Linked DNA regions of Homo sapiens: regions 2, 3 and 4 are each linked to region 1. Evidence: fine-mapped expression QTL. A gene starts in region 1. Each other region holds a variant in brackets. All regions are shown on one strand. Distances are between the middles of the regions.

Region 1 (8,103 bases):
TAGGCTCCAGTTCCCACTACTGGGAGTGTGATGGGGTTCTCAGTCATTGTAACTTCATTTTCCTCTCTATAGGAGGGAATATAAGAACTCTTTCCTGTTCCAGCAAATATGGAGTTATATCTGCTGGGTCCCCTAGTCATTTAGGAAGCCAAGTTGGAGACCTTTCCTAATCCCCAAACACAAACTTACCTGTCATTCAGCCGTTCTAAGAGGTAGGAACCCAGTCCAGAGCCTGTCCCCCCAGCAATGGAGTGACACAGCACAAAGCCCTGCATGGGGAAGGGGCAGTCAGTGTACAGGTATCTAGTGGCAGGATGTCAAACTAGACCCATCTCATAGTTTTTTAGGACTCCCATTTTCCCGAGCCCTTGCTTCCCATCCAGTCCCCTCACTTATACAGCTTAGGCAACTGCCTTGTTTCTGGCAAGGCCTGATAGCTTCTGTCCAGTGCAAAGGGTACATGAGTGGGTCTTGTTCCTAACAGGTCGCTTCTAGAGGGTGCTGCCAAGCCTTGCCCATGTCGGCTCCTACCAGCATTCCTGGGACACTTACCTCTAGACTGTCACTACCATCTGCCTCCCGGTCTATGATGTCAAAAATGTCCTCATGGATCTTTTCTCCCTGTACAGACATAGGGGAGGGTCAGAGTGGGACAGAACCATGGGAGGTCTCTGACCTCAGAAAAGCCACCCTCAATTCTCCTTATAACACCCAGAAGTCCTTTTATGGAGCATAGCTACCTGCTTTTATCTACATTGAGAGGCAGTACGGTGCAGTGGTTACAAGAAAGCACTCTACACCCAGACTACCTGGGTTCATACATTAGCTCTATTTTTTTTTGCGATGGAGTCTCTCTCTTTCTCCCAGGCTGGAGTGCAGTGGCGCGATCTTGGCTCATGGCAACCTCCGTCTCCTGGGTTCAAGCGATTCTCCTGCCTCAGCCTCCCCAGTAGCTGGGATTATAGGCGCATGCCACCATGCCCAGCTATTTTTTGTATTTTTAGTAGAATCAGAGTTTCACCATGTTGGCTAGGCTGGTCTTGAACTCCTGACCTCAGGTGATCTGCCTGCCTTGGCCTCCCAAAGTGCTAGGATTACAGGCGTGAGCCACCACGCCTGGCCCATTAACTCTACTTCTATGTAGCTCTGGGCAGCTTATTTAATTGCTCTATGCCTCAGTTTCCTCATCTGTACAATGAAGGTAATAATACAGGTCCATATACCCTTATCTAACAGTGTTGGGGCCAGTTATGTTTTGGAATTCAAAATATTTCAGATTTTAGAAAGGTATTATGGTATATATACTATATATTAAATAAAATTCCAGTGGGAATTTTTATTTAATCAGAAGCACGTTAATCAAATATATTAGTATTTCTGTAATAAAAGGCATCACTAATGACAGTAAGTTGGATAGAAACTATAGGGCCGGGCATGGCGGTTCACGCCTGCAATCCCAGCACTTTGGGAGGCCGAGGCAGGTGGATCACGAGGTCAGGAGATCAAGACCACCCTGGCTAACACAGTAAAACCCCGTCTCTACTAAAAATACAAAAATTAGCCAGGCGTGATGGCAAGCACCTGTAATCCCAGCTACTCGGGAGGCTGAGGCAGGAGAATCGCTTGAACCCGGGCAGCAGAGGTTGCAGTGAGCTGAGAGCGTGCCACTGCACTCCAGCCTGGGCGACAGAGTGAGACTCCGTCTCAAAAAAAATAAATAAATAAAAATTAAAAAAAAGAAACTATAAAACAGCCTGTCTTCATTGAAATTTGTTTTTGCTGATAAACTAGTTATGAAATGTCCTTTGGTTTCATGGCTTTCTGGATCCTGGAAAGGCAGATAAGGGACTGTGGACCTGTAGTACTTACTTCTAGGGTTGTTGGGAGATTTAGAAAAATTAATATATGTAAAGCACTTAGAATGACCTGGCACACTGCATTAGCTAGTGTAGGCGCTTGACAATATTACATAGTCCACTCCCTGCAGCCAGGTCTCTCCCTCCAGCATTCATACATCCCTGATCCGGTTTTCCCTCTCTTCGGGACGTCATAGAGCCTGTCCCTACCCAGCGAGTTGTGGGCCCTGCCAGGGAATAGGAAACGACCTGGGAGAATCCGCTGGCCCAGTTGTTGCCAGCTCCTCCTCCATGTTCCGACAGGTAGATGTTCTCTGGGTTGTAGAGCTTGGCATAGGGGGAGTTGAGGATGGAGTGGATCACCCGGGGTTCCAAGTCCAGCAGCACGGCCCGGGGGATGTAGTGCTCATCGTCTGCCTGTCAAGGGGAGTCCAGGAGGGGGCCCAATCAGCTAGGGCGGCCCAAGTCCGAAGTCCTCCCAACTCTGGCTCCCTCCGGCCCTCCCTCCTCAAGCCAGCCGCCTGGCCCTACTGCCCAGCGGGGTTCCCAGTACCAGGCCACTCCCTTCCCTTCCGCCCCCTTGGGCAACTGCCGCCCCCGGCCAAGTCGCTGGGGGCACCTGGTAGAAAAAGACGTCCTTGCGGTCAGTGCCCTCGGTGGCGAACTCCTCCACGATGCCCTCGGGGCTGATACCATGCTCGGCGCACAGCTGTTTCCAGAACTCGAACCCAACTGGGGGGAAGGGGCGGGCAGGGGAGAAAGAAGATATCTAGGTCCGGGCAGGTTCCAATCAGGAGCCGGGGGACTGGGCGCCTGCGTCCAGGGATAAGAAGTCAAGCCGCAGGACTCTCCCGTGTCTGAGGAAAGGACTGTACGCCAGGGACTGGGCAGGGGAGGGCCCCTCGGGGTTGGGCAAGTGGACACTGGGTCAGGGATGTCTCGCCTTTCAGAGAACTACGATTCTGGCAAGGACAGATGGAGTCCAGGATCCCACAGCGAGATCCCATTGACCCTAAGGAACCTGGCTAGCTGAGGGGCCGGAGTTTCGCTCACTCTGATTGCCGCACTGGCCCAACTGTAGGGTGATGATTTCCCTCGGCATCGCTCCTCAGGCACCGGCGTTGCAGCCGCTCCCGCCCGCAACGGCGCCGCACGCCAGCCCGCTCGCCGCAAGACGCAGGCGCCAAACAACCAGCTCCACCCACGAACTTCCTCCGCTCCAATGAGAATCGAGTTCTGGCAATGAATGGCACGTCTTTAAGCACTGGCCTTCGTTCATGCAGATTGCGCGTGCGCGGCTCCGGATGCGGCTCGGCGCCTCCGGATCCGGCTCCGCGCCTCAGTGAGGGCGGGGTACGGCGTCCTCCCTCCCCTCTGGGTGGGCGCCTGCTTGGGCCTGCGCGCAAGCGCGCTGTGGTGCGAAGCCACCTCCCCCGCCGAATCGCGCATCTGCGCAGTTGCTGTTATTGTGACTTGTCGGGCCACGGCCCCGGATGTTGTGGCTGCCGCGGGGAGATGGCTGAGGCCGAAGGGGTTCCCACGACCCCAGGCCCGGCTTCGGGGTCGACTTTCAGGGGCCGCCGAGATGTGTCAGGCTCCTGGGAGCGGGACCAGCAGGTTGAGGCGGCGCAGCGGGCCCTGGTGGAGGTGCTGGGGCCTTACGAGCCTCTGCTGAGTCGGGTGCAGGCAGCCCTGGTGTGGGAGCGGCCAGCTAGGAGCGCTCTGTGGTGCCTGGGGCTGAACGCGGCTTTCTGGTGAGAGAACTGGACCCTCGGAAACCCTCCGAGTCCCGAATTCGTTGGTTCCTCTAGGGCTCTACTTCTCGCCTGCCCTGTTTTCTTCGCTGCACTGGCTCCTTCCTGTACTTGCCTAATTTTGCCTCACCTCCTTCCACTCCATCCCGCCTGCAGGCTTCGGCACCCTAGTTCTTCCCAGGGCCGTCCACCCATCTTCTCTGCCTTACCTGTGCCCGCACCCCCGCCCCGCACATCTGGCGGGAGCTTCTGGTAACATCTTGAGCCGCTCAAGAGTGAGCGAGGGCTCCTCTTTTGAGCCCGACAAAGCTGCGTCCCTTTAAAGCCATCACTTCCTTTCTCTTGTCTGCTCAAGTGCAAGTTCTAGATTGTTTCCAGAGGTTTTAGTAGTTTATTGTTGGAGTAGAGGCGTGAAGTCTTGCAAAGGTATCCATAGGTGTGATTATAAAACAAGCTTGAGCGATTCGCATGAATTAGCATGTTATATATCTAGGAAGGAAGTTTATGAAGTCTAAGCGTCAGTGTGAGCCCCCAAAGCTGAAAATTGAAAGAAAATTACAAGCTTTTAAAGAACAGTTAGGAAATGATGACGGAGATTACACGCGTGTCAAAGCCACCTGTGATTGTAACTCCTCCCTGTTCCAAGGAATTAGAGAGGCATCCTTAGCCATGGTTTATAGGCAAGGAAATTGATGTCTAATACTGTGTGTGAGTTTTCCTGAGCTGGAAAAGTAGCACTGTAAATATGCTTTATTTGTGTGTGTCATGCTCTGTGAAAATGGAACTGCTGCTTCTCTCAGTTGTCATCACCTGAAGTGGACCTAGGACTTCATAGGATCTACCAACCATAATTTTGGATTTATTTGTAATGGAGGAGGTTCCAAGGGAACTGACTTATAGGGGGCTTTCTGCTGCTGAATGGATTAAGACTATTCTGGATAAGCCTGAAACAACAAAATATGTGTGTTTTTTAATTGTGTTTTTGCTAAAAATAGCTTTCCCCTTAAAATTTGTTTTAAAATCAAAACATTTATTATCCTTTATCTGAAAGATTTTCAGTGAGCTGAAGCAGAACAAATAATTCCAAGTTCATTGACCCGAAAACAGTGTTCAGCTATTAAGCTAATCCTCTCCCAGTTTGAAAGAGACCCAGTTAAAGGTGTCACAGTAGTCTCTGGCATTTGTGGCTTCCAGAGCCTTTAGCAAACTCGATGGTAAACTTTTCCTACCACGTTCTTCATTTATTTTTGGTAGTGCTTTTTCCCTTTTTTTTTTTTTTAAGACAGAGTTTCACTCTTATTGCCCAGGCTGGAGTGCAATGGCGTGATCTCGGCTCACTGCAACCTCCGCCTCCCAGATTCAAGCATTTCTCCTGCCTCAGCCCCCCAAGTAGCTGGGATTACAGGCATGAACCACCACAACCGGCTAATTTTGTATTTTTTTAGTAGAGATGGGGTTTCTCCATGTTGGTCAGGCTGGTCTCGAACTCCCGAGGTCAGGTGATCTGCCTGCCTCGGCCTCCCAAAGTGCTGGGATTACAGGCGTGAGCCACTGCGCCTGGCCTTTTTTTTTTTTTTTTTTTTTTTGAGACAAGGTCTTGCTCTATCACCCAGGCTGGAGTGCAGTGGTATGATCTCGGCTCATTGCAACTTCCACTTCCTGGGCTCAAGCAATCTTCCCACCTCAGCCTCCACAATAGCTGGGACCAGAGGTGCACATCATCATGCTTGGCTAATTTTTTAAATTTTTTGTGGAGACAGGGTCTCACTATATTGCCCAGGCTGGTCTCGAACTCCTAGGCTCTGGTGATCCTCCTGCCTTGGGCTCCCAGAGTGCTGGGATTATAGGCATGAGCCACCGTGCCCAGCCAAGTGCTTCTTCCTTGACCCCTAGGTACTGATTCCCATTGCTCTCTGTAGAAATCTTCACTATAGCACCTCACTGAAGAGTGTTTTATCCAGTCAAAACATTTCCCACAGTGGTTTTGGTATCTCTAGCAAGAAGGCTGGGCCTCATTAAACCAATTTGTATCAAAGTATGACTGCCTGATGGAAAAAAACACTTTATCAGGGTTTACTTATTTTTGTTTTGAGACAGTTTGGCTCTTGTTGCCCAGGCTGGAGTGCAATGGCACGATCTCAGCTCACTACAACCTCCTCCTCCCAGGTTCAAGCGATTCTCCTGCCTCAGCCTCCCGAGCAGCTGGGATTACAGGCATGCGCCACCAATGCCTGGCTAATTTTTGTATTTTTTTGTAGAGACAGTTTTGCCAGGTTGCCCAGGCTCGTCTCAAACTCCTGACCTCAAAGCAATCCACCTGTCTCAGCCTCCCGATGTGCTGGGATTACAGGTGTGAGCCACTGCACTGTACCGGGCCTTAAATGGATTTTTAAACCAAAGATTTATGAATGCAAATGAATTAGTAGCATGTATGCTGTTCTTTTTGAGGAGGGGACCTTTTTTTTTTAATTAATTTTTGTTTTTTGAGATGGAGTCTCGCTCTGTCGCCCAGGCTGGAGTGCAGTGGCGCCATCTCGGCCCACTGCAAGCTCTGCCTCCCGGGTTCACGCCATTCTCCTGACTCAGTCTCCCGAGTAGCTAGGATTGCAGGCACGCGCCACCACGCCCGGCTAATTTTTTGTATTTTTTTTTAGTAGAGACGGGATTTCACCGTGTTAGCCAGGATGGTCTCAATCTCCTGACCTCGTGATCTGCGAGGAGGGGACCTTTCTTCTGCCGCTTGTCTGAGAGAGGTTTCTGAAGCAGAATGTGAGGTTGAGGTCTGCACATAAAGAGCTGCTGTGACTGGGACATATCTTTAGATGTTACAGCTAGCTTTAATTTGCTGGCCTCTACCAGTGTTTACTTAAGCTTATTAACATGCTATGTTTAGAGGCTCACTTAGAACCCCTTTTGTACTCTGGGTCTCTTAAAGCATTGCTGTGATTGGTCTTTATCTTTGGCATTTCCTAGTAGCTTGTCTGTTGTGTATCCAGAACACAGTTACTCTTGTTACAGTCCCATCACATTTTAAGAAGGTGCAGGAGAGAGACAACAAAATGAGGATGTGACTTTTTTTTTTTTTTTTTTTTTTTGAGATGGAGTCTCGCTCTGTCACCCAGGCTGGGGTGCAATGGCGTGATCTTGGCTCACTGCAACTTCCACCTCCTAAGTTCAAGCGATTCTCCCACCCCAGCCTCCCGAGTAGCTGGGATTACAGGCACCCACCATCACGTCTGGCTAATTTTTGTATTTTTGTAGGGCAGAGTTTCACCATGTTGGCCAGGCTGGTCTTGAACTCCTGACCTCAGGTGATCCACCCACCTCGGTCTCCCAAAGTGCTGGGATTACAGGTGTGAGCCACTGTCCCTGGCCGACAATGTGACTCTTGAGACTAAAAGAACAGTTGGGTATGCCATTTCTGGAGAGGACTCCTACATGTGAAAGGCACAGATACTGTTAAGTCCCCAGAAACTTGGATAGTCTGGCATTGGAGTTCACAGAATTGTTTGGGGAAATGAGCTTCCTTGGTAGGTAATTAGAGATTTAAAATGAAATTTGGGCTTCACATTCTAGTAGTGTCATATTGAGTATGAGTGTTGACATTTCGCTTAGAAATGTGGAAGAGTGACTGACTGTTCAGTTAACAAACATTTTAAATGTTTAAGAAAGGGAGGAGGATCATTAGCTCAAGTCAGAAAAATCAAATCTGAAATATTTAGTTTCTCTTTTATTGTATTGAATAATGGGACAAAAATGACATATCATTAACTGAGATTTTTATGCATTTTGAGGTATTAGGAGATAGGAGTACAAAAAAAAACCCATCAGAATTCAGGTAGGTAGCTCTTAATTTTCAGTGTTTTGTATCCTCAGTCATATTTTGCCGTAACTGTGAATATGCCCTCTTACATCTTAAAAAAAAAAAAAAAAGATGGAGATAGATGTAGATACCTTGTCACCATAGTATTCCAAGGTTTTCATACTTTTTTTTTTTTCAGGTACCAGAGAATTTATGGTGGCCATATCAGAGGTCTTCCAGCCTAGATTACTTCTGGTCACTGATCTGTTATTGTCTCTAGCATAATAATAGAAATGTCAGGCCGTTCCTTCCAATAGCTTGTGTTTTCATTAGTCTCAACCTCATCTGTGAATGAGTGATTTGGGGGAAGAATGTGAGAGTCAACAAGCATGTATCCTGACAGGATCAGAAAAGAACAGGTTTGGGTAACTTTTTGGTTTGACTTGTACTCTGAGATCAGAGGAGGGTAAATGAACACTGGAAATGTGTGAACTCCAAGCTCCCTCTCCCACCTAACATGAAGAGATAGTTCAAGGAGGCCTACATAACTGCTGAGCTCTTTCAGTTTTTTTTTTTTTTTTTTTTTTTTGCTGGGGAATCGGGGGTTGTTGGGCTGGACAGGGTCTCCCTCTGTTGCCCAGGCTGGAGTGCAGTGGCACAATCATAGCTCACTGCAGCCTCTACCTCCTGG
Region 2 (8,103 bases), 840 kb before region 1:
GAACAACGTGTCTCCTCTTGTCATTGATAAGATGAACTTAGAATGAGCTTGAAATGCTATGGTGGTGGTGCTCTATTCTGGACTGCAGAAAAATCTGGAATGCCGTTCTCAGATGGGGCAGTTGCCAGGTGGAGGGTCTCCTCACTTCTCAGACGGGGCGGCCGGGCAGAGACGCTCCTCACCTCCCAGACGGGGTCGCGGCCGGGCCGAAGCGCTCCTCACATCCCAGACGGGGCGGCGGGGCAGAGGCGCTCCCCACATCTCAGACGATGGGTGGCCGGGCAGAGACGCTCCTCACTTCCTAGATGGGATGGTGGCCGGGAAGAGGCCGTAACTGATTTTTTTTAAGCAAACTTTTTATCTGTATGTGTTTTCAGATATCTTGGCTGGTGGGCCTGTAAGACACTGGGACAGAGTTGCCATAGCCTCCTTAAGGATTTTGGGATGGCCCCAGAAAGAACAGAATAAACTTGGCGAATCACCTAGGTTCAACATAAAGAATTGGGAATGTGGACCATGGCACACACTCAGGGCTGGTTACAGAATTTTCAGGGGCCAGTATAAAATGTATGAATCCAGCCAGGCATGGTGGCTCATGCCTGTAATCCCAGCACTTTGAGAGGCCGAGGTGGGTGGATCACTTGAGGTCAGGAGTTTGAGACCAGCCCAGCCAACATGGTGAAACCCCGTCTCTACTAAAAATACAAAAATTAGCCAGGCGTGGTGGCAGGTGCCTGTAATCCCAGCTACTTGGGAAGCTGAGGCTGGAGAATCGCTTGAACCCAGGAGGCAGAGGTTGCAGTGAGCTGAGATCGCGCCATTGCGCTCCAGCCTGGGCGACAAGAGCAAAACTCTGCCTCAAAAAAAAAAAAGGATGACTCCTTGTTTCTAAATTATTAAGACGTTTAAATGGTGACAGCAGAGCATTAAATCAAGCAGGGGGTCCTTCTAAACATGGGGCCCTGCTTAACTGCACAGGTCACACATCAATGGTGCTGGCCTTGCACACACACAGTGGCCAGTCACTCAGAAAGGGGCAGTTTTGCCACAAGACATCCCAGTCCTGCAAAGCCGAGAAAAACCCACAGCTGCTGCTAGGTTTCCTTCCACAAGCACACCTGGGAACCTAATTCTTCACAGAGCCATTTTCCACATGCACCACCACTCTGGTTATGAGTTCAGAAGAGAAACCAAAGCAATAAAATAAACATAAATCAAAGCCAACTGTGTTAATAAAATGGATCCAAAGGGTCAGTGTGGCAGGCAGGACATTAGATTTCAGACAGCTTTAGTATCTTCCCGGACAAATTACATGAACTGCTGTCAGAGGTACCCTCAAAGTTCATGCAAAATATGCCTCCTGGCTCATTTAACTCCCATTTCTCCGCCAGTAAATTATTAACGGAACAAGCTCGAACTGGCAGAGCTGTTGTCTCAACATAGGCCTGATGTCCACACAGAAAATTGCTCAATAATTTGTACTGGAAGTGACCCAGCACTAAATTCATTCCCTGAGCACTGGCACCAGGGCACCAGACTGCAGGGGGAAAGAATCCCCAAGACAGCATCCTGCTTCTGTTTGGAGTAGAGTGTAAAGTCCCCATCGAGGGGCCGAAGGTGACCCTGCAGCCTCAGAGCAGCAGCCCATAACCCAAGTGTCGGTGACTTCATAAGGCCAAGGACACAAGAGGGGCCCATAGAAGCCTCTGGCAGGTGAGAAGGAGAGACAGGGAAAAGAAAGAAAAAGACTTGATGAGAGGACAGCGCAGGATGAAGAGAGGAGGGGATGGAACAAGAAAGAGGAAAACTTCTCTCTTTGGGGAGGAATATATGGTTTGGGGCAAAATATAGGTTCTAAAGAGCAGCTTCCACCACTTCAATGCACCCATCTCAGCTTCTGGAAGTCTTTCCAGGCCTTGAGGTTCAGCTCCAATGACACCTCCTCCAGGAGGTGGAGGGTAGCTTCCCCTGATGGCCACAGAACAACGTTGCTACCCAAATAAATGATAATACAGTAGATAAGAGTGGAGAGTTTCCCTTTGCCACCTACACCCTCTCATTTCGTACCCCCAGCCCTTCCATGGGCATTATTACTGCCCTAATTTTGCTAATGAAGAAACCGAGGTACTGAGAGATTTAGTAACTTGCCCAAGGACATACAGGTGGTAAGTGCTGCAGCTGGGACCAGACAAACTGACTCCAAAGTCCTTACTTGTAACCACTTGGCTCTACATTTCCCTCTTCTACCTTATTGTGGCTCAGAGGATCGCCTGAGCCCAAGAGCTCAAGACCAGCCTGGACAACATAGTGAGACCCCGTCTCTACAAAAATTTCTGCCTGTAGTATAGACAGTAGTGTCCAAACTTCACCCCTCCTCCAGGAAACCTCTCTTGAGGATAGGGACTCTATCTTACTTATATCCCTATTCCTCCAGCAATCCACTACAACGTCCAGCACATAGTAGGTGCTCAGTAAATGTTAATTCCATACCTTTCTCTCATCAGACACATGTACAAAAAGTATTGTGTCCAAAACACAGACTAAGAGAAAATATTTACGAATCATATGTGCAACACAGGATTTGTATCCAGAATTTATAATGGGCCAGGCGCGGTGGCTCATGCCTGTAATCCCAGCACTTTGAGAGGTCGAGGAGAGTGGATCACCTGAGGTCAGGAGTTTGAGACCAGCCTGGCCAACATGGCAAAACTCCATCTCTACTAAAAATATAAAAATTAACTGGGCGTGGTGGCGGGTGCCTGTAATCCCAGCTACTCAAGAGGCTGAGGCAGGAGAATCACTTGAATCTGGGAGGCGGAGATTGCAGTGAGCCAAGATTACACCATTGTACTCCAGCCTGGGCAACAAGAGCAGAACTCTGTCTCAAAAACAAAACAAAACAAAAACAAACAAACAAAAACCAGAATTTATAATGAACTCTCATACCTAAATAAGAAAACAGATTACTGACTTTAAAAATGAGCAAAAGATGTAAACAAATACTTCACCAAAGAGAATATTAAGATGGCAGATAGGCACATGAAAAGATGTTCAACAGCCAGGCGAGGTGGCTCATGCCTGTAATGGGTCACTTTCAATACAATTACTGAGACAAGAAGATTGCTTGAGGCCAGGAGTTCGCCCAGCCTGGGCAATATGCAAGACCTCATCTCTACAAAAAAATAAAAATAATTTTTTAAAAAAGAAATAATCATCATGTACAGTCACTCAAACCTGAAATCCCAACACTTTGGGAGGCCAAGGCAGGAGGATTGCTTGACCCCGGGAGTTGGAGACCAGCCTGGGCAACATAGTGAGACCTTGTCTCTACCAAATTTTTTTTTAATTAGTTGGGCATGGTGGCACACATCTGTGGTCCCAACTACTCAGGGGGTTGAGGTGGGAGGATCACTTGAGCCTGGGAGGTCAAGGCTGCAGGGAGCCATAATTGTACCACTGCACTCCAGCCTGGGAGGCAGGGCGAGACTGTCTCAAACAAACAAACAAAAAAGAAGTATCAATCTGAATCCCATAAATATGTACAATCATTACATGTAAACTAAAAATAAAAGTATAAATAATCACCAAATGGGAGAAAAACAATGCTTGGCATATAGTAGGCATTCAATAAATATTTGTAGAATTAATAGTCCCAGTGAAGCAGCCAGTCATTCATTCTATTGCAAAATAGCTCAAATGAAAAGAAATTTATGAAATTTTTTTTTACTAATGTTAAGCTGAAATCACACCTATATAAAAAGATTTATGGGTCGGTTTCGGTGGCTCATGCCTGTAATCCCAGCACTTTGGGAGGCCAAGGCAGGCAGATCACTTGAGGTCAGGAGTTCAAGATCAGTCTGGCCAATATGGCAAAACCCTGTCTCTAATAAAAATATAAAAAGTAGCCGGGTGTGGTGGTACACATCTGTAATCCCAGCTACTTGGGGGGCTGAGGCAGGAGAATTGCTTGAACTCAGCAGGCAGAGGTTGCAGTGAGCCGAGATTGCACCACTGTACTCCAGCCTAGGCGACAGAGCAAGACTCCGTCTCAGAAAAAAAAAAAAGTATCCAAGACCAAGAAAATGAAAATATACATTCACACAAAAACTTGTACAAGAATGTTTATAGCCGCATTATTCACAATAGCCAAAAAGTGCAAACAACCCAAATGTCCATCAGCTGATGAATAGATAAATGAAATGTGGTATATCCATACAATGGAATATTATTCATCAATAAAAAGGAATGTAGTACTAATACATGCTACAACACAGATAAACCCTGAAAACAGCATGCTAAGTGAAATAAGCTTGACATAAAAGGCCACAGATTGTGTGATTTCATTTATGTGACATATCAAGAGTAGGCAAAGCCATAGAGGGAGAGAGTCTCTATGGCTCGTATTTGCCAGGGGGTGGGCGGAAGGGGAAATGGGGAGAAGCTACTGTGGATTCGGGGTATTTTGGGGAGACGAGATAAAAATGTTCTGGAATTACTGGTGATGGTGGCACAACTTTACAAATATACTAAAAACACGAAATTTTACATTTTTTTTCTTGTAAATCTAGGTCTGAACAGATAATTGTATAATTTGGTAACTTGTTTTCCTCTCTTTTTTAGAGACAAGGTCTTTCTCTGTCACCCTAGCCAGAGTGTAGTGACGTGATCATAGCTCACTGTAACCCCAAACTCTTGGGCTCAAGCAATCCTCCTGTCTCAGCCTCCTGAGCAGCTAGGATTAAAGGCACTTGCCACCATCCCCAGCTAATTTTATTTATTTATTTATTTATTTATTTATTTATTTATTTATT[T/C]ATTCATTCATTCATTTATTGGTAGAGACAGGGTCTCGCTGCATTGCCCAGGCTGGTCTCAAACTCCTGGCCTCAAGTGAGCCTCCGCCTAGGCATCCCAAAACCCTGGGATTGTTTTTTTTGAGACAGAGCTTCACTCTTCTTGCCTAGGCTGAAGTGCAATGGCGAGATCTTGGCTCACCGCAACCTCCACCTCCCGGGTTCAAGCAATTATCCTGCCTCAGCCTCCTGAGCAGCTGGGATTACAGGCATGCGCCACCATGCCCGGCTAATTTTGTATTTTTAGTAGAGATGGGGTTTCACCATGTTGGTCAGGCTGGTCTGGAAATCCTGACCTCAGGTGATCTGCCCGCCTCGGCCTCCCAAAGTACTGGGGATTACAGGTGTGAGCCACCACACCCAGCCTTTTTTTTTTTTTTTGAGACAGAGTCTTGCTCTGTCACCCAGGCTGGAGAGCAGTGGCACAATCTTGGCTCACTGCAACCTCCGCCTCCTGGGTTCAAGCGATTCTCTCGCCTCAGGCTCCCGAGTAGCTGGGATTACAAGCACACACCACCATGCCCGGCTAGTTTTTGTATTTTTAGTAGAGATGATGTTTCACCATATTGGACAGTCTGGTCTTGAACACCTGACCTCAGGTGATCTACCCACCTCGGCCTCCCAAAGTGTTGAGATCATAGGCGTGAGCCACCGTGCCTGGCCTCAAAACCCTGGGATTACAGGTGGGAACCACTGCATATGGCTGAGTTGTACACTTTAAAAAAAATTTTTTTTTAAATATGGAACACTTCACAAATTACAGTGTCATCTTTGAGCAAGGGTCATGCTAATTTTCTTTGTATCATTCCAATTTTAGTATATGTGCTGCTGAAGTGAGCATTGAATTGTATAATTTAAAAGGGTAAATTTTGTGGTATACTATACTAGTTTTATGGTATACCATAAAATTGTGGGTATACTTTATAAAAATAAAATTATGGTATGTAAAATGTTACGGTATACCATAAAATTATGGTATACTTTATGGTATACCATTAAATTGTACTCAGGCAGTATGAAAAACTCAGTATAAAAAAATTCATAGACCTGTACACCAACAGAAAAAATTTTACTGCATAATTTAAAAAATAAAAAAAAAATTAAGTCCTGTGTCCGAAAGGCAGGAGCCAGGTTCTCACCTGTTGTGTGTCACCTAAGTTGCCTCATACAATAAATGCTGAGGACAGTGGTTCCCGGACGTGGGTACATGTCCAGGAACCACCTGGTTGGGGGAGGTCTTTGAAAACTTCTGATGCCTGGCAACCGCCCCCAGGCATTCAGATTTAATTGGTCTGAGGTACAACCTGGGTACTGAGATGTTTTTTTAAAGCTTCCCAGGTGATTCTAACATGCAGCAAAATTTGAGAACCACGGGCTTAGCAAAAGGTTGATGAACAACCATTCTTGGGAGCCAAAAGCTAATCCCCGCCCCACCTTACCTCACTTTCACCTCAAGGCAATCAGATCAGATCTGTCCTTGGCAAAGAGAACAGCTACAGCCAATCCTGCTGTTCACCATGCCGGACAGAAGTAAATCAGAGCATTCTCTCCAGTTCCTTAAGGGCCACTGCTCTCTCTATAAACATGTGGTTGATGAGATCAGCAATTCTGAAGCAGGATCCATTCTACAAAGCATGGTTTCTTCCGTTCTCCCCAGGTTTTCTCTCTCTTGCTGTCCCCATTTGTAGCTGGGGTTGGGAAGTGGAGGAGAGAGAAAGTCACTGAATAAATACATTCTCTGTGTTCTCAATGAACAGACATGAAAGAAAAGAAAAATGGTAAATACATTCCTAGTAGGGTGAGCCTCAGTAGGTTTCTGGATTACCCTTCCCAGAAACATTCATATTTTCAAAGAAGACCTCCTGGTAAACGAAGACATGAGTCACTAGTAAGGAAGGTTTTGAGGGACAGGGTCTCTTTCCTTTAACTTCCCAGACACATGTCTGGACTGGTCCTGATTGTTTGACCTGTCTGTTTTCTTAGAACAGAGCATGAGATCCTAGCTAGCTGCATTCCATTCACTTAACAATTTGTTGTTCGAATTTATTTATTTCAGTTACGATTAGGTTTTGTCTGTGGCATTTATCGTCTTTCTATGCCAAGCAGTCTCACACTAACTTGAAAGCCCTTTTGTATTATCTACTGTGTTTCCTACAGGTGAGTCTTTTCACCTTGTCTTAGTAATTAAGACTTCTGGTTGTAGATTACAAAAACCATCTCAAGCAAGTTTAGGCAACAATGGGAGTTCTCAATGAGATTACAGGTGGAACCAGGAAAGTTAAGCCTCAGGGAGAGCAGGAATCCAGGCATACGTGGTCTTTATCAGGGAGTAGACACCAGGGCCCCACCCCAGTCAATGGGGAAGTCAGATCTCAGAGAATAATAATCATTGAACATGAATTGAATGTCTGCTATGTGCAGGAACATATATTATTGATAACATATTCTTATGTTATCAGTATGAGTTATATTACTATTGCTCTTCCCATTTTATAAATGAGGAAACTGAGGTCCACAGAAGATAAGCAATATGTTCAAGAGCTTCCAGGCCAGGTCCGGTGGCTCACACCTGTAATCCCAGCACTTTGGGAGGCCGAGGCAGGAGGATCACCTGAGCCTCAGAGTTTTGAGTCCAGCCTGGGCAACATAGGGAGACCTTATCTCTACAAAAAATTTAAAAAGTAACCAGGTGTGGTGGTGGTGCCTGTGGTCCCAGCTATTCAAGAGGCTGAGGTAGGAGAATCACTTGAGCCCGGGAGGTAGAGTCTGCAGTGAGCTGTGACTGTGCCACTGGACTGCAGCCTGGGTGGTGGAGAAAGACTCGGTCTCAAAAAAAAAAAAAGAAGTAGGGGGTGGGGGGCAGTTCCAGTTGGCACTGGAACTCAGGCAGTATGGTTTCAGAATTGACACACTTAGCCACCAGGTGAATGGTTCCCTTAAGAGTTGTACAGTGGGCAACCTGCACACCCATACCTGGCAGCCCTGACTATGGACTAGATCAGTGTTTCTCATCAGAGACACTGAGGACATTTGGAGCTAGATAATTTTTTGTGTAGGACTATCCCATCCTTCATTTACTATATGTGAGTGGTAATAACGCTCCCAATCATTGTGACAATCAAAAGCCAATCATTGTGACAATCAAAAGTATCAACCTCTTGAAACTTAAAAAAAAAAGAAAATGAAAAAAAAAAATTTAAGTATCAACCTCAGTTGAGAATCACTAGGATAAGTAGATAGCCCCAAATGATGT
Region 3 (8,103 bases), 60 kb after region 1:
CTCTGTGCCACAGGAGCGATTATAGTGACCGCAGTTTGCTGCAGAGGCTGTGAAAGTAAAGGCGTTGGGAGGTGGGAGATGATTGTATATGTGCTGGTTTCGTCCAGGGTTCCTAGCTCATAACTCACATGACCATGGTTACAGTCTTACGTTGTCATGTTGGGGTGCCTCAGGCCTCAAAAAACAGCCTTTCGTCTCTCTGACCTTCTCCTGTCCTCTTTTCAGCTGCCCAAGGCAGGACTCTAATCTGATTGTGGGTTGTAGGATCCTCATTCCAGAGTGGGTCCTTGCCCCATACCCTGGAGAAAGGAATGCTGCACAAAGGCCCAAAGAATCTGGACTGGCCTTGCTGGGCTTAGATCAGACCCTTTTTGCCCAATCACATTATCACAGTTGTCCATGCTTCAGTCATGGACAGCCAATGGAGTTCTCCATAAAAGGCCCAAAGGACAGGGTTCGGGAGCTTCTGAGGGCTGAACGTGTGGAGGCTGACAGAATGTGCCCAGAGGGTGACGTAACCCCAACTCTATGGAGATAGAAGCTCCTGCTCTGGACCCTTCCAGACCGCCCTGTCTGTATCTCTTCATATGGCTGTTTATTTCTATCCTTTAAAATATGCTTTGAGGCTGGGCACGGTGGCTCATGCCTGTAATCCCAGCACTTTGGGAGGCCCAGGAAAGGGGATTGTTGGAGCCCAGGAGTTCAAGACCAGGCCAGGTAACAGAGTGAGACCCGGTCTCTGCAAAAAATATTAAAAAGCTTCCCAAGTAGCCGGGACTACAGGTGTGTGCCATCACTGCCACCATACCCAGCTAATTTTTTGACTTTTTTGTAGAGACGGGGTCTCACTTTGTTTCCCAGGCTTTTTTTTATTTTTGAGACAAAGTATTGCTTAGGTTGGAGTGCAGTGTCTTAATCTTGGCTCACTGCATCCTGCATCTGCCTGGTTCAGGCGATTCTCCTGCATCAGCCTCCCGAGTAGCTGGGATTACAGGCACCCGCCACCACGCCCAGCTAATTTTTAGTATTTTTAGTAGAGACGGAGTTTCACCATGTTGGCCAGGCTGGTCTCAAACCCCTGATGTCAAGCGATCTGCCCACCTCAGCCTCCCAAAGTGCTCGGATTATAAAAAAGTGCCACCCCACCTGGCCCTGTCATTTTTAGAAGATTATTTTATTTTGAGACGGAGTTTCGCGCTTCTTGCCCAGGCTGGAGTGCTGTGGCACGATTCTGGCTCACTGCAACCTCCACCTCCCGGGTTCAAGCAGTTCTCCTGTCTCAGCCTCCCAAGTAGTTGGGATTACAGACACGTCCCACCACATCCGGCTAATTTTTGTATTTTTAGTAGAGATGGGGTTTCTCCCTGTTGGTGAGGATGGTCTTGAACTCCCAACCTAAGGGGATCAGCCAGCCTCCACCTCCCAAAGTGCTGGTATTACAGGCGTGAGCCACTGTGCCCATCCTAAAAGATCATTTTAACTGCTCTGGGGTAATTTCACTGCTGATGGGCAGGAGTGGAATCAAGAAAACTAGTTAGGAGGCTACTGCTGTAATTGAAGGGAGAGATGACAGTGTGCAGTCTGGAATAGGGTGATTTGGGGATATGCTTTGATGAGCAAAGGTAGAGCTGTCAGTATTTGCTGCTGAATTGGTTGAAAGGTGAGAGAGACTGGAGTCAAGGACTACTCCAGGGTTTTTAAAACCAGTATTGGGAAAAATGGAGTTGTCATATAGTAAAGTAGAGAAGACTGGGGGAGGAGCCGGTAGGAGGACTGGAAATGTGGAATTGGGGTTTAGACACATTAAGTTCATTGTATCAGGTGGACGTGTTGTATTGAGTAGGCAGTTGGAGATACAGACCTGGAGTCTGTGGGAGACAGTGGGGTTTCTTTGGTGGGGGGGTCATCGGCATCTAAGTGCTATTCGAAGTCATGGGACTGCAGAAGATTATATTAACAATGTGAATATTCACAAGCTTGAAAAAATGAATGTACGGAAGAGAGGGGGTCACACTTTACCTCTTATTATCCCACCCCCAGGGGTGACCTTGTGAGCCACACCACACAGGTACACACATGCACGCATATGTACACACACTGTCACAGAGGGGCAAAGGGGGTTGGCGAGAGCGGGACTGAGAGCAGATCCCAGGCCTCAGAAACCCATGCCACCTGGGCCCCCTCCCTGTGGCCTTCCTGGATGCTGTAGGGATAGCAGATCTGTCTGGGTCAGCAGGGCAAGGCGACTGGCAGGAGGGGGTGGCTGGGAGGCCTCTTCCTCCAAGAGCAGGGGCAGCACATCATCCAACAGGCAGAGAAGACCCTCATCCAGAGGTAGGGGCAGGTCAGGGTGGAGTGCCTGCCTCCTTCCCCTAGTGCCCCACACAAAGCTCCAAGAGCTCCAGCAGGCTCCTGTCTGTTTCCACTTCCCAGGCTTTCTGTGGTCATGTCCCTGCCCACTCCAAAGGGCCATCCCCCTCAGCCTTCCCTCCCTCTCAGACCCAGCTGAATCCCTGCCTCGGTACCGCCCCCTCCTGGGGCACTCCTGCCCCCTTCCTCTGCTGCATCCTCACCTAGCCTCCTATCTGTTCACACCTCCCCTGCACCAGACCTCCACAGAAGTTCAGACAGTGGCTCTACAACCCTACTGGCCCCTATCAATGACTTCTGCCCCCCTGGGACCCTCCACTGGGCTCAGGAAAGATGGGCCATTGTAGCAAAGTAGCCAGTCCTGTAGCCCCAGCTGGACCTCCTGGTGAGGCAGCTTCCCAGATGGTGGGGATCGCTCAGTCCTCTGGGGCAGAACAGGGTGAGTGGGGCTGTCTCCCTTTGATTCACTTAGCCCTCTTTCTTCTTTACACATTTGCAAAATGTGACAGTAGTCATATTACTATTCATTCTAATAACAGTCCTTGCTGGGTATTAAACCTCTATACTAGCACTTTCAGGCATTATCTCCACCATTACTAAAACCGATTAGATAGGTATTATTATACCCATTTTACAGATAAGAAAGACTCAGAGGGCCGGATGGGGTGGGTCATGCCTGTAATCCCAGCACTCTGAGAGGCCAGGGCGGGCGGATCACCTGAGGTCGGGAGTCCAAGACCAGTCTGACCAACATGGAGAAACCTCGTCTCTACTAAAAATACAAAATTAGCTGGGCGTGGTGGCACATGCCTGCAATCCTAGCTACACTTGAACCCGGGAGGCAGAGGTTGTGGTGAACTGAGACCGCGCTATTGCACTCCAGGCTGGGCAACAAGAGTGAAACTCCGTCTCAAAACAAAAGAAAAACAAAAAAGAAAAGAAAAGGGAAAGGAAAGGAAAGCACTCAGAGAAAGCAAGGAACTTGCCTGAGGTCTCATGGCTAATGGAGTGCAGGTCACAACCTGACTCTACCCCAACCCAAGTCCCACCTAACTCGTCCTGCAGATGCCCCTTGGGTATCCAGTGACTGTGTCTGGGCTTTACTGTGGACTTGAGGCATGATCCTGGGCTGGCTTCTTTCTGGACCTTGGTTTCTGGGTTGTTGGGTTGGTTGGTTGATTAGATTAATTAATTGACAGTGTCTCACTCT[A/G]TCGCCCAAGCTGGAGAGCAGTAGCTCGATCATGCCCACTGCAGCCTCCAACTCCTGAGCTCAAGGAATGGTGCCACTGTGCTAATTTTTTTATTTTAGAGATGGGGTGTCTCACTATGTTGCTCAGGCTGGTCTGGAACTCCTGGCCTGGAGCGATCCTCCTGCCTCGGCCTTCCAAAGCTCTGGGATTATAGGCGACAGCCATCGCGCCTAGCCGCGCAGATATAACGGGCTAACGTGATCTGTCTTAATTAGCCATCCACAGCCGTCACCGCCGTCCCATCCCCAGGGACCGCACAGGCCCAGGAGACAAAGGAGGGCGCGGGAGACAGTGGCTGACGGAGCCTTTCTTGCGGGGCGGCCAGAGGATCGCTGAGCTCAGGGTCTCCCATCCCACCGGCCCCGCCCCCGGCCTCGGCCCCAGCCCCGGCCCCAGCCTCGGCCTCTGCGGGATCGTCGGCGAACACGTCCCGGTGCATGGCGGCGGCGTAGTCGAAGCCAAAGGGGTCGTCCAGGCGCATCAGCAGCTGGTGCAGGAAGCGCCTGGTTGTGAAGTAGCGCAGGGTCGGCTTCGGGGCGCGCATAGCGGTGAGGAAGACCTGCGGCGGCGGGAGAGGAGCTCTGGCCCGGGCTGCGCGCAGGACGACGCACCGCCCCCGCTCCCGGAGTCCCGCCCCCCGCTCACCTTCACCACCTCCTCAGGGTGCTGCGCCTCCTCGCGGTAGATCTCCTTGCTGTGGTGGAGGTATTAGTGCAAGAGGCGGAAGGTCCGGGTGTTCGTGCGGTCCATCACCTGGTCGGGACCGCCCAACACCTTCTGCATGAAGGCGGTGTCCACAGGGCCGCACTCGATCAGGCTCACGCTGCTGGCCCGAGAGCCGCAAGTGGGCAGGGACGGAGGCGACCCAGGCGCCAAGTCCCATCTCCTGCCCCAGCACCGGCCCCGACCCCGGCCCTGGCCACGACCCAGAACAGCACCGCTGCGTCCCGAAGGTGGAAAGAGCGCTGGGGATAACCAGAACATTTGAATAGCGGGTTATTGCTCGACAGCCCTCCCAAACCCATCTGAGGCTGCCAGGTAGCCCTGGTGTCAGAATTCGAACCTGGCGGGATCCCCGGCCGCTGCATGACCTTGGGCCAGTCACCTAACCTCTCTTGGCTGGAGCTTCCCCATAACAATACCAACACTTCAGCAGCCAGGTCAGCAAGTGGCACAATGCGTGCCAATGCTCCAGCCTAAGTGCCTGGCACGCAGCAAATGTAAGCCGGGCAGAGACCAGAGCGGCTTCCGCAGGACAGGGTGCTCGGCATCTCTAGGTCAGAGTTAAGAGGGTTGAGGAGACGGGGGTGTTGACTCACTGGACCCCAAAGGGCAGCAGCAGAACCGCCAGACTCTCGCATAAGCCTTCGAGCGCGAACTTGCTGGCGCAATAAACGTCATTGAAAGGCAGCCCTTGGGTGGGAAGATGAGGTTCCTGAGGCGCAGCGGCCAGGGGGTCATCCCCCGGCAGGCAGTGCCCCTCCAAGCTGATTGCACCCCACCCCCTAAGGAGCCTGCCTTCAAGGCTCAGCTCTGCACACAAAGAATCTGGAGCTCCGGGCCCGGTCCCTGCCACTCACCCATCAATCCTCCCATGCTCCCAGTCACCAACACGCGTCCCGAACCCGGCCGCTTCATGTCTGGCAGGAAGTCCTGCAGCACCCGCACAGTACCTACTACATTCACATCCAGTACAGAGGCCACAGCGTCCTCCCCCAGCGGCCCCAGCAGGCCCAGGCCTGTGTCACACACTGCGGGGACAGAGGCCCAACCAGCCCGCCTCAGCATCACCCTCAGCACGGCCTGTCCCCTCATGCTCCAGGGGCCTGGGGACATGTTGGTTTCAACGCAGGGCGGAGAAGGCTCCTAGGAGCCCATATGCTTCCAGGAGGCTCACCCAGCACATCCACACGGCCCTCGGTCACGCGTTCCCGGGCAGCGGCCAGGGAGCTTGAGTTCCTTACATCCAGCTGCAACCTCTCCAGGGATCCCTGAGGGCATGCCAGGGCCCGGGCCGCCTCCCACAGCCGGCCCTGTGTTTTCAGGTCCCTCAACGTGGCATACACTGGAGGTTTTGGGAGAGGAGGAAGATCTGACTTCTCTTCTGGCCTCCAAGGGCTTTTCCCTTCTCTCCCTCCCTGTCCCTACCTATCTATACCTTTGAAGCTCTGGGATGGGTCCAAAGCCAGATGTATTGCCAAGTGCAGGCCAATACCTGAGGAACAGCCGGTGATGAGCACCACGGTGCAGGCCATGGTGAGACTGTGGGGAGAGGCTGGGGCTCTGGGCTGGATATCACCTGCTTCGCCCCGCCCCGCCTGCGGGCCCCCACCCCTTGTTGTGTCTCCCACGCAATCTCAAGGATAAGCCCTCCTGCGGGTCCCTGGCCCGCTCTCCCCACCCTGTTCTGAGCCAAAACAGACATGAGCCCACTGCTTGGAACAACAAACTGTCCTCGTTTCTGGTCAGAGGGAGGGGAGGCTTTACAAGCAGATGTGGGTTCCCACGTGGGCACAGAGTGGCCCCCTGGGCAGATTCCCCTGGGTATGCCTCTGTGCCACAGGAGCGATTATAGTGACCGCAGTTTGCTGCAGAGGCTGTGAAAGTAAAGGTGTTGGGAGGTGGGAGATGATTGTATATGTGTTGGTTTCGTCCAGGGTTCCTAGCTCATAACTCACATGACCATGGTTACAGTCTTTCGTTGTCATGTTGGGGCGCCTCAGGCCTCAAAAAACAGCCTTTCCTCTCTTTGACCTTCTCCTGTCCTCTTTTCAGCTGCCCAAGGCAGGATTCTAATCTGATTGTGGGTTGTAGGATCCTCATTCCAGAGTGGGTCCTTGCCCCATACCCTGGAGAAAGGAATGCTGCACAAAGGCCCAAAGAATCTGGACTGGCCTTGCTGGGCTTAGATCAGACCCTTTTTGCCCAATCACATTATCACAGTTGTCCATGCTTCAGTCATGGACAGCCAATGGAGTTCTCCATAAAAGGCCCAAAGGACAGGGTTCGGGAAGCTTCTGAGAGCTGAACGTGTGGAGGCTGACAGAAGGTGAAGAACTCATCCATGTGCCTGGAGGGTGATGTAACCCCAACTCTATGGAGATAGAAGCTCCTGCTCTGGGCCCTTCCAGACCGCCCTGTCTGTATCTCTTCATATGGCTGTTTATTTCTATCCTTTAAAATATCCTTTGAGGTTGGGCACGGTGGCTGATGCCTGTAATCCCAGCACTTTGGGAGGCCAAGGCAAGGGGATTGCTGGAGCTCAGGAGTTCAAGACCAGCCAGGGCAACAGAATGAGACCCCGTCTTTGCAAAAACTACAAAAAAATTAGCTGGGTGTGGTGGTGTATGCTTAGAGTCCCAGCCACTTGCGGGGTGGGGCGCTGAGGCGTGGGGTTTGGGGGGATGGAGGCTGTAGTGAGCCGAGATCATGCCACTGCACTCCAGCCTGGGTGACGGAGCCAGATCCTGCCACTGCAGTCATTCTGGATGACAGAGTGAGACCCTGTCTCAAAAAAGAAAGAAAAAAATTTTTTTCCTCTGTAATAAAGCAATAAACATAATAAGGGTTTCCCTGTGTTTCGTGGGTCACTGTCGCAAATGAGTTGACTCCAAAGAGGGGAAGGGGGTCATGGGAACTCCAACTTGAAGCCAGTTAGTCAGAAGTTCCAGGGATCAGGACTTGTAACCGTTGGGAAGGAGGGGGTGGTCTCATGGATCTGCACCCTAACCCTGTGGGATCTGATGCTGTCTCTGGTTGATTACATTGGAACTGAATTGGAGGACACCCAGCTGATGTCTGCTGCTTGGTGTGTGTGGGGAAAATCCTCCAAATATTTGGTCACAGAAGTCTTCTGTGTTGGTGACTGTTGCTGTGGCATGCCAGCAAAGGACAAACATGGTTTGAAAAGAGGTTTTCCTGCAACAGAAGGGCATTCTACGTTCAAAGGTCAGGGTAACATTAGTGTTAAAAAGAGAGACGTGGCCGGGCACGGTGGCTCACTCCTGTAATCCCAGCACTTTGGAAGGCCGAGGCAGGTGGATCACTTGAGTTCAGGAGTTAAAGACCAGCCTGGCCAACATGGTGAAACCTTATCTCTATGAAAAATACAAAAATTAGCCGGGCGTGATGGCACAGGCCCGTAGTCCTAACTCCCTGGTAGACTGAGGCAGGAGAATTGCTTGAACCCGGGAGGCAGAGGTTGCAGTAAACCAATATGGTGCCACTAAACTCCAACCTGGGCGACAGAGCAAGACTCCATCTTGGAAAAAAAAAAATTAGCCTGGCGTGGTGGTGCATGCCTATAGTCCCAGCTACCGGGGAGGCTGAGGCACAAGAATTGCTTGAACCCAGGAGGCGGAGGTTGCAGTGAGCCGAGACTGTGCCATTGTACTCAAGCCTGGGCAACAGACCAAGGCTCCGTCACAAACAAACAAACAAACAAAAACAGGGACGTGAGGCAAGGGATGGGAGAACAGGTCCC
Region 4 (8,103 bases), 160 kb after region 1:
ACAGAGGTAGGGATCTAACTGATAGAGTCTCAAAATGTTACAAGAATTGTCACTGTAGTGAAATTATTAAATGTGGTTTTTTATCTTTAATTTTTAGTTTGAATGAATGCGTGTCAATTGTCCAAATTTCCACCAGTGAAGAATCAGCTAGCTCATCTTAGCTTATCCCACTTAGATTCCTAGATGGGGCCTAGAGGAGAGTTTTAACGTTAAGCCCGGTGTTTTGAAATACGTATCTGCTCCAGTGTCTTCTCCACAGGCTTCCAGTATTCGTTTCCCTAAGGCTGCCATACAAATAACCACAACCTGGGTAGCATTTAAAACAACAGAAATCAGGTCAGCCGAGGTGGCTCACGCCTGTAATCCTAGCACTTTGGGAGACCGAGGCCAGCCTGTCACCTGAGGTCAGGAGTTCGAGACTAGCCTGGCCAACATGGGGAAACCCCATCTCTACTAAAAATACAAAAATTAGCAAGACATGGTGGTGGGCGCCTGTAGTCTCAGCTACTTGGGAGGCTGAGGCAGGAGAATCACTTGAACCCAGGGGGCAGAGGCTACAGTGAGCCAAGTTTGCGCCACCTCACTCCAGCTTGGATGAAAAAGCAAAACTGTGTCTCAAAAAAACAAAAAACAACAGAAATCGGCCATGCACGGTGGCTCACTCCTGTTATCCCAGCACTTTGGGAGGCCAAGGCAGAAGGATGGCTTGAGCCCAGGAGTTTGAGACCAGCCTGGACAACACAGCAAGACCCACGTCTGTAAAAAAAAAAAAAAAAAAAAATTAGCTGGGCATGGTGGCACGTGCCTGTAGACCCAGCTACTCAGGAGGCTGAAGTGGGAGGATGGCTTGAGCCTGAGCCAGGGAGGTTGATGCTGCTGCAGGGAGCCGTGATTGAGCCACTGCATTTCAGCCTGGGTGACACAGTGAGGCCCTGTCTCAAAAAAACAAAAACACCGAAATTTATTCTCTCACAGCGGAGGCTAGAAGTCTGAAATTAAGGTGTCTGCAGAGCATGGTATCTCCAAAGGCTCTGGGAAAGAATCCTTTCTTCCCTCTTCCTGGCTTCTGGTGGTTGCCAGAAATCCTTGGTGTTCCTTGGCTTATAGATGCATCATTTCAATTGTTGCCTCCATCGTCACATGGTATTCTTTCTTCTATATGTCTTTTTTTTTTTATTTGAGATAGAGTCTTGCTCTGTCGCCCAGACGAGTGCAGTGGCGCAATCTCAGCTCACTGCAACCTCCACCTCCCAGGTTCAAGCAATTCTCCTGCCTCAGCCTCCTGAGTAGCTGGGATTACGGGTGTGCACCGCCACGCCCAGCTAATTTTTGTATTTTCAGTAGAGACGGGGGTTCGCCATACTGCTCAGGCTAGTCTCGAACTCCTGGCCTCAAGTGATCCACCCGCCTCAGCCTCCCAAAGTGCTGGGATTACAGGAGTGAGCCACTGCACCCGGCCTTCTCTATGTGTCTCTGTCTGTAGGCAAATTCTCCTCTTCTTATAGGGGCACCAGCCATTAGATTAGGGCACCACTTAATCCAGTATGATCCCATCTTAACCTGATTACATCTGCAAATATCCTATTTCCAAATGAGGCCACCTTCACAGGTTCCCCGTTATACATGAATTTTTTTTTCTTTTCTTCCTTTTTTTTTTTTTTTTTGAGACGGAGTCTCACTCTGTCATCCAGACTGGAGTGCCGTGGCGCAGTCTCGTCTCACTACAACCTCTGCCTCCTGGGTTCAGGCATTTATCCTGCCTCAGCCTCCCGAGTAGCTGGGATTACAGGGCCTGCCACCACGCCCGGATAATTTTTTTGTATTTTTAGTAGAGACAGGGTTTCACCATGTTGGCCAGGCTGGTCTCTAACACCTGACCTCAAGTGATTTGCCCTCCTCTGCCTCCCAAAGTCCTGAGATTACAGGCGTAAGCCACCACACCTGCCCTATGTTTTCCTTTTTGCAACCAGAATTCCATTTTTAAAAGTTTTCTTTTTATGTGAAAATGAATTCTGATTCTTAAAACTGTTCTACCAAGAATCTGATATGAGCGTTCATTGAGACATTTCTACTGCTACAACCTTTAGGTGACCTGTTGATTAGCAGTTTGTTTCCATAGAAGTAGTCCCTTTTACAACTTCACTGTGAGTTCCTTAAAATACTTCTGCTTTTACTTTCAAACCTGTGAGTGTTTAAGATTAAAGGCCTTTTGGTAAAAAGTAAAAACCTAATAGATTTTGAGACTTCCTCGGAAGCTCTGCTAATGATTGCATGGACAAGGAGATATAAATGAGCCTAAGGCATGTAACATTTTATTTTATGCAACCCTCATGACTCCTGTGACAGACACATGAGGCAGTGAGCCTCTTAACTTGTGGAAGTTAAGAATGCTATGCAGAGGCTTTTTAAGGAAATGAAATTTGGAAAACATGAGAAATCTTGGGATGGGAATGAGGGAAAGGGCTGAGTGACACAAGGCTGAAAAACATCTGTGACACTAGACCTGAAATATTTGTCCAGGAAAGTGAGAAACTAGTTCGAGATTTCTGAAGTGGAAAATCTGGCAAATGTTTCTATATTGGGTTTCTAGTGACTTCGAGAAAGAAAGGGAGACGTGGAATGAATACATCGGAAAATTCTAATAGAAAAGATCTAGTTGATTCAATGTTCAAAGGAGAGATCTAACTTTCAGTAGAACATAAAGCTCCAAGAGAAGGGACCCTGCGTATCTCACTTATTGTATTCTCACTGCCTATTTTGGTACCTGGTATTCAGTATATACTTAGTAAAATTTTCTTTTCTTCTTTTAAGATATGGGGTCTTGCTCTGTCACCCAGGCTGGAGTGCAGGGCTGCGATCTTGGCTCACCATAACCTCCACCTCCCGAGTAGCTGGGATTACAGGTGCACACCACTACACCTGGCTAATCTTTGTATTTTTAGTAGAGACAGGGTTTCACCGTGTTGGTCAGGCTAGTCTCAAACTCCTGACCTCAGGCGATTTGCCTGCCTCTGCCTCCCAAAGTGCTGGGATTACAGGCATGAGCCACAGCGCCCGACCCATTTCTTTTTTTCTAAAAAGACTCTCTTGCTATGTTGCCCAGGCTGGAGTGCAATGGTGCAATCATGACTCCCTGCAGCCTTCAACTTCCAGGCTGAAGCAGTCCTCCCGCCTCAGCCTCCTGAGTAGCTGGGACCACAGTCACACACCACCAAACCAGACTAATCTTTTGATTCTTTGTGGAGACAATGTCTCACTATCTTGCACAGGCTGCACTCAAACACCTGGACTCAAATGAGCCTCCCTACTCAGTCCCTTGAAGTGCTGAGATTACAGATGTGATCCGCTGGACCTGGCCTGAAATGAGATTCTTGAAAACAGCATATTGTTGTCCGGGCACGGTGGCTCATGCCTGTAATCTCAGCACTTTGGGAGGCCGAGGCGGGTGGATCACCTGAGGTCAGGAGTTGAGACCAGCCTAGCCAACATGGCGAAATCCCATCTCTACTAAAAATACAAAAATTAGCCAGGCATGGTAATGCATGCCTGTAATCTCAGCTGCTGGGGGGCTGAGGCAGGAGGATCCCTTGAACCTGGGAGGCGGAGGTTGCAATGAGCCGAGATAGTGCCACTGCACTCCAGCCTGGGCAACACAGCAAGGCTCCATCTCAAAAAAAAAAATAGAAAAAGAAAAAGAAA[A/G]AAGAAAACATATTGTTGTGTCATATTTTTAATCCATTGTCAATGTCTGCTTTTTTAACTTTAATTAATTAATTAATTAATTTTTTTGAGACAGAGTTTCGCTCTTGTTGCCCAGGCTGGAGTGCAATGGTGCAATCTCGGCTCACCGCAACCTCTGCCTCCCGGGTTCAAGGGATTCTCCTGCCTCAGTCCCCAAGTAGCTTGGATTACAGGCATGAGCCACCACGCCCAGCTAATTTTATATTTTTAGTAGAGACAGGGTTTCACCATGTTGGTCAGGCTGGTCTCGAACTCCCGATCTCAGGTGATCCACCCACCTAGGCCTCCCAAAGTGCTGGGATTACAGGTGTGAGCCACTGTCCTTGGCCTATTTTTGTATTTTTTGAGATTGAGTCTCGTTCTGTCACCCAGGTTGGAGTGTGGTGGCACCATCCCAGCACACCGCAACCCCTGCCTCCTGGGTTCAAGGGATTCTCCTGCCTCAGCCTCCTGAGTAGCTGGGATTACAGTCGCCCACCACCACACCCAGCTAATTTTTTTGTATTTTTAGTAGAGATGGGGTTTCACCATGTTGGCCAGGCTGGTCTCAAACTCTTGACCTCAAGTAATCCACCTGCCTTGGCCTCCCATAGTGCTGGGATTACAGGTATGAGCCACCGTGCCCGGCCAAAGTCTGCTTTTTAATTGGTGCACTTTGTTTACATTTAATGTAATTATTGATACCTTAAGGCTTAAAGGCGAGGTGTGGTAGCTCATGCCTGTAACCCCAGCACTTTGAGAGGCTGAGGCAGAAGGATCGCTTGAGCCCAAGAGTTTGAGACCAGTCTGAGCAACATAGCAAGACCTCATCTCTACAAAAAAAAAAAATTTTTTTTAACTAGCCAGGAGTGGTGGCATGTGCACCTGTAGTCCCAACTACTTGGGAAGTTGAGGTGGGAGGATTACTTGAGCCCAGGAGTCCGAAGCTGTAGTGAGCTACGATCATGCCACTGCTCTCTTGCAGCAAGACTCCATTGCTAAAAAAATAAGTATGTAAATAAATAAAAGGTTTAAGTCTGCTGTTTTATTTTTTGTTTTCTGCTTGTTCCTCTTGTTGTCTCTGTGTTTGATTTTTTCTGGCTTACTGTGGGCTACTTGTACCTTTTTTTTTTAAATCCCATTTTAATTTTCCTATAGTGTTTTTGAGTGCATCTCTTTTTTTTTTTTTTTTTTTGAGACGGAGTCTCGCTCTGTCGCCCAGGCTGGAGTGCAGTGGCGCGATCTCAGCTCACTGCAAGCTCCGCCTCCCAGGTTCACGCCATTCTCCTGCCTCAGCCTCCGGAGTAGCTGGGACTACAGGTGCCCGCCACCACGCCCGGCTAATTTTTTTGTATTTTTAGTAGAGACGAGGTTTCACCGTGTTAGCCAGGATGGTCTCAATCTCCTGACCTCATGATCCGCCCGCCTCGGCCTCCCAAAGTGCTGGGATTACAGGCGTGAGCCACCGCGCCTGGCCCGAGTGTATCTCTTTGTGTAGATTTTTTAAGTGGTTGTAATGGGTTTCATATTATACATATATAAATTATCACAGTCAACTGATGTCAATATTTTTTCTTTTTTCTTTCTTTTTTTTTTTTTTTTTTAAGACGGAGTCTCTCTCTATCGCCCAGACTGGAGTGCAGTGGCGCAATCTTGGCTCACTGCAACCTCTGCTTCCCAGATTCAAGCGATTCTCCTGCCTCAGTCTCCTGAGTAGCTGGGATTGCAGGCATGTGCCACCATGCCCGGCTAACTTTTGTATTTTTAGTAGAGACAGGGTTTCACCATATTGACCAGGCTGGTCTTGAACTCCTGAACTCAGGTGATCCACCTGCCTCGGCCTCCCAAAGTGCTGGGATTACAGGCGTGAGCCACTGTGCCTGGCCAACTGATGTCAATATTTTTATCAGCTTGAGTGAAGTATAAAACTCTTACCTCCATTTTAGTCTTTTTACTTTCCCATTTACAACATAATTGTCTTAAATATTTCCTCAACATACTTTGCAAACCACATTGGACAATGTTACACAGTCTGCTTCAACCATCAAACATAATTGAGAAAACTCAAGAGGAGAAGTGTTTTTTTTGTTGTTGTTGTTTTGTTTTTTTTTTATTGATCATTCTTGGGTGTTTCTTGCAGAGGGGGATTTGGCAGGGTCATAGGACAATAGTGGAGGGAAGGTCAGCAGATAAACAAGTGAACAAAGGTCTCTGGTTTTCCTAGGCAGAGGACCCTGCGGCCTTCCGCAGTGTTTGTGTCCCTGGGTACTTGAGATTAGGGAGTGGTGATGACTCTTAATGAGCATGCTGCCTTCAAGCATCTGTTTAACAAAAACATCTTGCACCGCCCTTAATCCATTTAACCCTGAGTGGACACAGCACATGTTTCAGAGAGCACAGGGTTGGGGGTAAGGTCATAGATCAACAGGATCCCAAGGCAGAAGAATTTTTCTTAGTACAGAACAAAATGAAAAGTCTCCCATGTCTACTTTTTTCTACACAGACACAGCAACCATCCGATTTCTCAATCTTTTCCCCACCTTTCCCCCTTTTCTATTCCACAAAACCGCCATTGTCATCATGGCCCGTTCTCAATGAGCTGTTGGGTACACCTCCCAGACGGGGTGGTGGCCGGGCAGAGGGACTCCTCACTTCCCAGTAGGGGCGGCTGGGCAGAGGTGCCCCCCACCTCCCGGATGGGGCGGCTGGCCGGGTGGGGTCTGACCCCCCACCTCCCTCCCGGACGGGGTGGCTGGCCGGGCGGGGGCTGACCCCCCACCTCCCTCCCAGACGGGATGGCTGCCGGGCGGAGACGCTCCTCACTTCCCAGACGGGGTGGCTGCCGGGTGGAGGGGGCTCCTCACTTCTCAGAGGGGGCGGCTGCCGGGCGGAGGGGCTCCTCACTTCTCAGACGGGGCGGCTGGGCAGAGACGCTCCTCACCTCCCAGACGGGGTCACGGCCGGGCAGAGGCGCTCCTCACATCCCAGACGGGGCGGCGGGGCAGAGGTGCTCCCCACATCTCAGACGATGGGCAGCCGGGCAGAGACGCTCCTCACTTCCTAGATGGGATGGCGGCCAGGAAGAGGTGCTCCTCACTTCCTAGATGGGATGGCGGCCGGGCAGAGAAGCTCCTCACTTTCCAGACTGGGCAGCCAGGCAGAGGGGCTCCTCACATCCCAGACAATGGGCAGCCAGGCAGAGACGCTCCTCACTTCCCAGACGGGTTGGCGGCCGGGCAGAGGCTGCAATCTCGGCACTTTGGGAGGCCAAGGCAGGCGGCTGGGAGGTGGAGGTTGTAGCGAGCCGAGATCACGCCACTGCACTCCAGCCAGGGCACCATTGAGCACTGAGTGAACGAGACTCCGTCTGCAATCCCGGCTCCTCGGGAGGCCGAGGCTGGCGGATCACTCTCGGTTAGGAGCTGGAGACCAGCCCAGCCAACACAGCGAAACCCCGTCTCCACCAAAAAAATACGAAAACCTGTCAGGCGTGGCGGCGCGCGCCTGCAATCCCAGGCACTCGGCAGGCTGAGGCAGGAGAATCAGGCAGGGAGGTTGCAGTGAGCCGAGATGGCAGCAGTACAGTCCAGCTTCGGCTCGGCCTCAGAGGGAGACCGTGGAAAGAGAGGGAGAGGGAGACTGTGGGGAGAGGGAGAGGGAGAGTGAGACCGTGGGTAGAGGGAGAGGGAGAGGGAGAGGGAGGAGAAGTGTTATAGACTGAATTGTGTCTTCCCAAATTCCTATGTTGAATCCCTAACCTCTATTGTGACTGTACATTGGAGACAGGGCCTTTAAAGATGTAATTAAGATTAAATGAGGGCCGGGCACGGTGGCTCACTCCTGTAATCCCAGCACTTTGGGAAGCCACGATGGGCAGATCATTTGAGGTCAGGAGTTTGAGACCAGCCTGACCAACATGGCAAAACTCTGTCTCCACTAAAAACACAAAAAAATTAGCCAGGAGTGGTGGCACACACCTGTAATCCCAGCTACTCGGGAAGGTGAGGCAGGAGAATTGCTTGAACCCGGGACACAGAGGTTGCTGTGAGCCGAGATTACGCCATTGCACTCCAGCCTGGGCAACAAGAGTGAAACTCCGTCTCAAAAAAAAAAAAAGAAAAGAAGAAAAAAAGGACACCAGCCGGGCTTGGTGGCTCACACCTGTAATCTCAGCACTTTGGGAGGCCGAGGTGGGAGGATCACTTGAGGTCAGGAGTTTGAGACCAGCTTGGCCAACATGTTGAAACCCCCGTCTCTACTAAAAAAAAAAAAAAGAAAATTATCTGGGTGTGGTGGCACATGCCTGTAATCTCAGCTACTCGGGAGGCTAAAGTAGGAGAATCACTTGAACCTGGGAGGTGGAGGTTGCAGTGAGCTGAGATTGTG

Which allele goes with the higher level. Positions count from the first base shown, and alleles are read on the strand shown. Sizes are in standard deviations (SD) of each study's normalised expression. Not every link is listed here.
For the expression in monocytes of the gene that starts at base 3,322 in region 1, allele T in region 2 goes with a higher level than allele C (large effect, 0.77 SD a copy in CEDAR).

What was found.
Region 2: its variant is fine-mapped to the expression of RETREG3 in monocytes (CEDAR, PIP 0.95).
Region 3: its variant is fine-mapped to the expression of RETREG3 in whole blood (TOPMed, PIP above 0.99).
Region 4: its variant is fine-mapped to the expression of RETREG3 in blood mononuclear cells (TOPMed, PIP above 0.99).

What each region holds. Positions count from the first base shown.
Region 1 is chr17:42,604,593-42,612,695 of GRCh38, reverse strand. RETREG3 (reticulophagy regulator family member 3) reads left to right here and starts at 3,322. Exons shown (of 9, transcript NM_178126.4): 1 at 3,322-3,610. The coding sequence starts at 3,372. It overlaps TUBG1 (tubulin gamma 1), which reads right to left and starts at 3,013. Exons shown (of 11, transcript NM_001070.5): 1 at 2,910-3,013; 2 at 2,476-2,588; 3 at 2,106-2,273; 4 at 553-621; 5 at 190-269. The coding sequence starts at 2,958. RefSeq lists an enhancer at 3,331-3,440.
Region 2 is chr17:43,443,095-43,451,197 of GRCh38, reverse strand. It overlaps MIR2117HG (MIR2117 host gene), which reads right to left and starts at 6,491. Exons shown (of 2, transcript NR_146952.1): 1 at 6,290-6,491; 2 at 1-301. It overlaps MIR2117 (microRNA 2117), which reads right to left and starts at 6,392; the gene lies at 6,313-6,392. It also overlaps the pseudogene RNU6-406P. The variant T/C (reference allele first, on the strand shown) is at 4,812.
Region 3 is chr17:42,544,536-42,552,638 of GRCh38, reverse strand. It overlaps HSD17B1-AS1 (HSD17B1 antisense RNA 1), which reads left to right. Exons shown (of 1, transcript NR_144402.1): 1 at 1-203. It also overlaps the pseudogene HSD17B1P1. Among named protein-coding and RNA genes, the nearest start is that of HSD17B1, 4.3 kb to the left of the region's middle. RefSeq lists a cis regulatory region at 242-258, enhancers at 3,564-3,623, 3,654-3,733 and a silencer at 4,124-4,373. The variant A/G (reference allele first, on the strand shown) is at 3,581.
Region 4 is chr17:42,447,754-42,455,856 of GRCh38, reverse strand. LOC102725238 (a long non-coding RNA gene) reads right to left here. Exons shown (of 4, transcript XR_007065758.1): 4 at 5,600-7,356. Among named protein-coding and RNA genes, the nearest start is that of ATP6V0A1, 7.1 kb to the left of the region's middle. The variant A/G (reference allele first, on the strand shown) is at 3,700.